Linked DNA regions of Homo sapiens: region 1 is linked to region 2. A link means that fine-mapping ties the variant in region 2 to the plasma level of a protein whose gene starts in the linked region. Region 2 holds a variant in brackets. A gene starts in the other region. All regions are shown on their reverse strands. Region 1 holds the start of TRIAP1 (TP53 regulated inhibitor of apoptosis 1). Region 2 holds the start of GLRX2 (glutaredoxin 2).

What was found. PIP is the posterior inclusion probability: the model's chance that the variant is causal. The UK Biobank Pharma Proteomics Project read protein levels with antibody pairs (Olink). The fine-mapping took linkage between variants from a reference panel, not from the people measured, so its PIPs are less certain.
Region 1: it holds the start of TRIAP1, and the variant in region 2 is fine-mapped to the plasma level of the TRIAP1 protein (UK Biobank, PIP above 0.99).

What each region holds. Positions count from the first base shown.
Region 1 is chr12:120,445,075-120,447,966 of GRCh38, reverse strand. TRIAP1 (TP53 regulated inhibitor of apoptosis 1) reads left to right here and starts at 1,583. Exons shown (of 2, transcript NM_016399.3): 1 at 1,583-1,741. The coding sequence starts at 1,595. It overlaps GATC (glutamyl-tRNA amidotransferase subunit C), which reads right to left and starts at 1,523. Exons shown (of 4, transcript NM_176818.3): 1 at 1,406-1,523; 2 at 1,138-1,310. The coding sequence starts at 1,486. RefSeq lists enhancers at 708-1,553, 1,387-1,681, 1,279-1,828, 1,043-2,242, 1,554-2,401.
Region 2 is chr1:193,103,810-193,106,715 of GRCh38, reverse strand. GLRX2 (glutaredoxin 2) reads left to right here and starts at 1,302. Exons shown (of 4, transcript NM_197962.3): 1 at 1,302-1,452. The coding sequence starts at 1,334. RefSeq lists silencers at 1,124-1,363, 1,143-1,437, 1,414-1,513. The variant T/C (reference allele first, on the strand shown) is at 1,335.

The DNA.
Region 1 (2,892 bases), not on the chromosome of region 2:
CCTGGGGAACATGGCAAAATCCCGTCTCTATCAAAAATACAAAAAATTAGCCAGGCCAAGTGGCACGCGCCTGTGGTCCTGTACTTGGGAGGCTGAGATGGGAGGCTCTCTTGAGTCTGGGAGGTGGACATTACAATGAGCTGAGATCATGCCACTGCACTCTAACCTGGGTGATAGAGTGAGACTCCATCTCAAAAACAAATAAAATAAAAATTCAAGGCAGGAATAAAACAGTAACTACATAATGAGCTCACATTTTAATAAAAGAGATATAACAAATGAACAAAAGTCCATTAAAATGTTAGGGAAAAAACCCAATAGGATGAGTTACTAACTAGAAGGGGAGAAGGGATTTGGAGTGGTTAGGAGAGCCCTTTCTGAGAAGATAAGCTGAGACCTGTGCCAAGAGGGAGGCAGCCATGCAAATACTGAGAGGAAGGAAAAAAACGAAGGGCCAGTGCAGAGATCTAGAGAGGAAAAGAACTTGTCTTGCTGGAGAAGCAGTCAAGGTAGCCAAGGAGAGTACTGAGAAGAGTACGTTGGAGTGAGTAGGTAGGGACTCTATGGAGTAGGGCCTTAAAGGCGATGATTAGGCCAGGCGCGGTGGCTCACACCTGTAATCCCAGCACTTTGGGAGGCCGAGGCGGGTGGATCACGGTCAGGAGTTCAAGACCAACCTGGCCAAGATGGTGAAACCACGTCTCTACTAAAAATACAAAAAAAATAAGCCGGGCCTGGTGGCAGTCGCCTGTAATCCCAGCTACTCGGGAGGCTGAGGCAGAGAATTGCTTGAACACGGGAGGCGGAGGTTGCAGTGAGCCGAGATCGAGCCACTGCACTCCAGCCTAGGCAACACAGCGAGACTCCGTCTCAAAAAAAAAAAAACAAAACAAACAAACAAAAAAAAAAACAAAGGCAGTGATTAGCAGTTCGGGTTTTGTTTCCACTTACACTAGCGAGAGCATCAGTAATGAACAAGGGGAAGAGTGAAGCCACTGACTCGCGAGGTGACTGTGGGCAAGTTCCTGAATCTTGCTAACACTCTTTAACCCCCTGGAAAACTGTTCGCTAATCGTCACATTAAACGGCTGCGAACGGGCCACGGTCAAGGCTTCGGGGCTGCAGCCGCGAGTTTACCTGTCCTCCAGGACCGATTCCATGGGCTCCACCCCGTCTGTGTCCACGGCGCGTAGCCGGTCGGCGAAGGCGATAGCTTTCTCCAGTCGCGCCACTGCCTCGCGGCTGCCGAAGTCCACAAGCGCTAGACGCTCCAGGTGCTCGATCACCGCAGCCGTGATCCGGCCACTGCCCTGGAGGAGGGATGAGGCGGGGAGTGTGGGTCACCGGCGCTCCGAAGTGCCTCCCGGCTTGCTCCGCCACCCGCCTAGATGGCCCTGGCCTTTACCTGAGGATCCGCCTTGGAGGTGAAGCCCTGGCGCCCGCCCAGAGGGGCCCGAAGGCCCAGCCACACCAACCGCGACCACATTTCTTCCTTCCTTGGCCCCCGCAGTGCGCCCGCGCGTAACGCCGAGCGACGCGCCTGAGAGTGATGACATCAGAGTGCGCCGTCGTCGCCGCCGCCACCACTGTCGCCATGAACAGTGTGGGGGAGGCATGCACGGACATGAAGCGCGAGTACGACCAGTGCTTCAATCGCTGGTTCGCCGAGAAATTTCTCAAGGGGGACAGCTCCGGGGACCCGTGCACCGACCTCTTCAAGCGCTACCAGCAGTGTGTTCAGGTGAGCCCTCCCGCCTCTGTTCCCAGGCCCTGCATTCTCGGCGCTGTGTCCCACCACACTCATCGTATTTTACGGGGATTGGGACTGGACTGGAAGGGTGGAGAAAAGTCGCAGTGAGGCCAGTGGCAGGAGCTCGCTCCCCTACCATCACCACCGAGGCCACTTGGGTGTCTCTCCGAATGACAAATATTGGGGCAGTGCTTTTCAAGAAGCACAGTCACATCCTTTGGTTCATTTGGTGTTCACCCTAAACTCGCAAGGTGGGCATAGTTACTCATATTTTATACATAAAAAACTAACACCCAGAAATAGGAAGTGATTAATCCGAGTTCACTAGCATCAGGTTTCCTTGGTTCTTTCGCAGGTGGTGCACTTTTCCACTATTACTGCTGGGGTCTGGGCGGGATTATACTTCAGAATTCAGACTGGAGGGTCACATTTTTTTGTTGTTATAAACCCTTCGTTAGCCTGTTTCTCTCTCTTGACCAGTCCCCGCAACTGCAGCCAGGAAATGTTTATTCTGGCCCAATGGATGTGGAACTGCTTTGAATTGTTAAGAACAGCACCGGGCAAAGCACTTCCAATAAGTTAACCCAACACATCCTCACAGCAATTCCCCGAGGTAGTTGCTGTCTTCATCCCATTTACAGTTAGTCACATAGCCAGTAAGTCCTGGAACCCAGATTTGAACCTAAGTCTTTCACTAACACAAAGTGATGATTATTTTTCAAATTTCACTTAATTTTAACGGTTCCCTCACAACTCCTTTTCCAGTCTCCCTCAGGTCTTACACTTGATTTATTCATTATGGTACTTCTGGTTTTTATTTATTTTTGAGGCAGAGTCTCACTCTGTCTCCCAGCCTGGAGTGCAATGGCACAATCTCAGCTCACTGCAACCTCCGCCTCCCAGGTTCAAGCTATTCTCATGCCTCAGCCACCCGAGTAGCTGGGCTTACAGGCATGCGCCACCATGCCCAGCTAATTTTTGTATTTTTAGTATAAACAGGGTCTCGCCATGTTGGCCAGGTTGGTCTCTAACTTCTGGCCTCAAGTGATCCACCTGCCTTGGTCTCCCAAAATGCTGCGATTATAGGCGTGAGCCACCACACCTGACCGGTACTTGTTTTTTAAAAAGTATGTGGTTTGAAT
Region 2 (2,906 bases):
AGCCTCCCGAGTAGCTGGGATTACGGGCATGCGCCACCACGCCCGGCTAATTTTGTATTTTTAGTAGAGACGGCGTTTCACCAATATTGGAGGGGCTGGTCTTGAACCCCCAACCTCAGGTGACCCGCCCGCCTCGGCTTCCTAAAGTGCTGGGATTACAGGACTGGCCACTGCGGGAGCTGCGGCAGCTGCGGCCTCTGGGTACGGGGTCAGCGGGCAGTCCTGTAATGGCCACATTACAGGACAGGCCATCGCGCCTGGCCACATGCCTTAATTTTCAAAGTCAAATTTGTCTTTAAAAAGAATGAATTCCTACCCTTTGGGGGTATTTATTTTTGCAACTAACTTCCATCCTTTTATTAAGTAATCAAACATAGCCCATTTGAATGTTGGAAAAGAACTGTCAGAAATACAAGTTCTTATTTTGTACTTTGGTAACATGAATTTTACACTTAGTTGAACATGAAGAATCAAAAAAGCTCTGGATTGTTGTAATAATTGTTTAGAATTTTAGATGTACCATTTGACCTTTGACTTTAAGATGAATTTCAGTGTCCTCAGTAAATAAAGGCTTACCCCCAACCTTAAATAGTGACGCACAAAGGCTATTATTACCACCACTGAGTGGCTTAAATAATCCTGTCAACAGCAATCGCCCATTTCCAAAGCCATGGTGAAACATCTCTGTGCTAATTTCTTTTGTTTTGTTTCCTAATTTTTTTTTTTTGGCAGGTGGTGGGAAATAATCTTTGTCTTCTTTGGAGTAAACCTTCAACACCGGATTTTTTCTTTTAATTATGGATGTAAACCCCAATATCCCCATAATTTACATTGGGTCTCGACCAATTGCCTAATTATAAGAGGATATATTTAGGCTCTTATTTCATCCACACAAAAACTTGTGTAACAGGTAGTTGGAAACATCTGAGGCACCACTTTGATTCTGTTTTGGATGGTCATGTTTTTTCTCCTCCGTTTCCCCAGCATGTCTGCCACCATCCTCATGCACTGCTTCCAAGTGCCTGGGAGCCTTTATGAGCGTCCCTAAACCTAAAAGAATCCAGAGGCGGGGCTCGGATGAACCCTCGAGATAAGCAAGTGAGCCGCTTCTCCCCTCTAAAGGATGTTTACACGTGGGTGGCACTCGCTGGAATCCAGCGCTCGGGCAGCCCTGGGAGGACGCGCTCAGCTGCGAGGAGGTGACCGGCGGCGGCGCGGGCAGTCCGGAGGGGCGGGACGGGGCGGGGCAAGGCGGGGGCCGGGCCGGAGGAGGCGGGCTCCCGGGATCCGCGGTGTCCGGCAGTAGAGCTCGCTGCAGATCCGGGCTCTGACCA[T/C]GATTTGGCGCCGCGCGGCGCTGGCGGGGACGCGGCTGGTTTGGAGCAGGAGCGGCTCGGCAGGCTGGCTTGACAGGGCGGCGGGAGCTGCGGGAGCTGCGGCAGCTGCGGCCTCTGGGTACGGGGTCAGCGGGCAGGAGTGCCGCGGCGTGGTGCGCAGGCCTTGCGGGGGTCTGGAGAAAGCGGTGGGCGGAGGTGCCCCTTTGCCCCGGCGCCGGGTGGGCGAGGCGTACTAGCGCGTGGGCTCTGAGTCATAACACGCAGAGGCGCTCGAGGGATGGGCAGGGAAGGGTGCCCTCCGCGGCTGTGCTGACTTCAGGAGCCTGTGACTCTCGCGTTGAAAATACTTCACTCATGTTCACTTAGGCCATCCCTCTGTGAATTGCTACATAAAATACAAGACGCCGCAATCAATTGGAATTTCTCTGAAAGAGCGAATGATTCTTAGTCCAAGTGTGTCCCAAATACTGCAGTGGACATAGGAAAAACGGAACAGTTTTCTGGTGTTTGGTTACAATTCTAATTTGACCGGGCGTCCTGCATTCTTGTTTGCTAAACTTAGCCACCCTACTGCAGGAAGTGAAGGCGATGATTCCCGCTGAATGGCCAGAGCTTTTAGGATAGAGGCTGACTGATGGTGATGCCGCCTGCGGCTAGACCGAGGATAGTGCTTTCCTTACACTTCCTCGTTTGGAATATCAGCGGCTTCGGGACCTGCAGTGGAAGGGAACTGCGGCTGTGCTGCCCACGCCCGCGCGGCTGGTGCCTGGCGGTCCTGCCGGCTCGCACTTCCGCGCCTGCCACTGCGCACTTGGCCGGAGAGTCTGTCTCGCTATCTACTTGATCTGGGAGCTTCTATCAGTTTTGCAAGATTCTAGGAATCTCAAGTTTAACTTTCCAGACCAAGCTAGAGACCCCTCCTGAAGGGCTAATCACAGGCTGTTAAGTGTTTGACAGCTCTTTGAGGCCCCGCCGTGTTTTTTTCTGCGTATCCCTGGGGTCAATATAGCACTTTGCCTACTTAGCACACAGTAGGCGCTCCATAAATGTGGCATGACTAGGTGCTTCATCTGTGTTGAAATGAAATGTTTATTGTGCACTTACTTCCTCCGTGCATGTTTCTATTCATAGTTCGCGACAGTTTTTACCAAGGTCAACTAGAAATTGAAGGGAAAGGGTGTCTTCCAGAAACTTTTATTTGGGTAATATTTCAGAATGCACCTCCTACCTCCTCTCACTACCCAAGAAAACATTCTCTTGTGTTCTATTGGAGCTCCTTCAGTAGTAAATGCTGTAGTAGATGGTTTGGGTATGACAGTTTAAGTGCTGGACCTGAGATGAAAGGACTTGCTTTCTTAGTTGATAAACCAAATACAGCTTGCTGATTTATTCCACCAATGCTCTTCCTTAGGGCTAGGCCAGTGCTGCCTAACCTTTTCTGGTTTAGGCTTCAGGAACTCAACTTTCTTTTATCTTAAAGCTTCACCCTCCTCTCAGGTTGGCTGCAGTCTCCCTAGCTCGCTACCCTTAACTCCTTCCTGAGTTAAGCGCACAGGACTTTTTTTTTTGTTT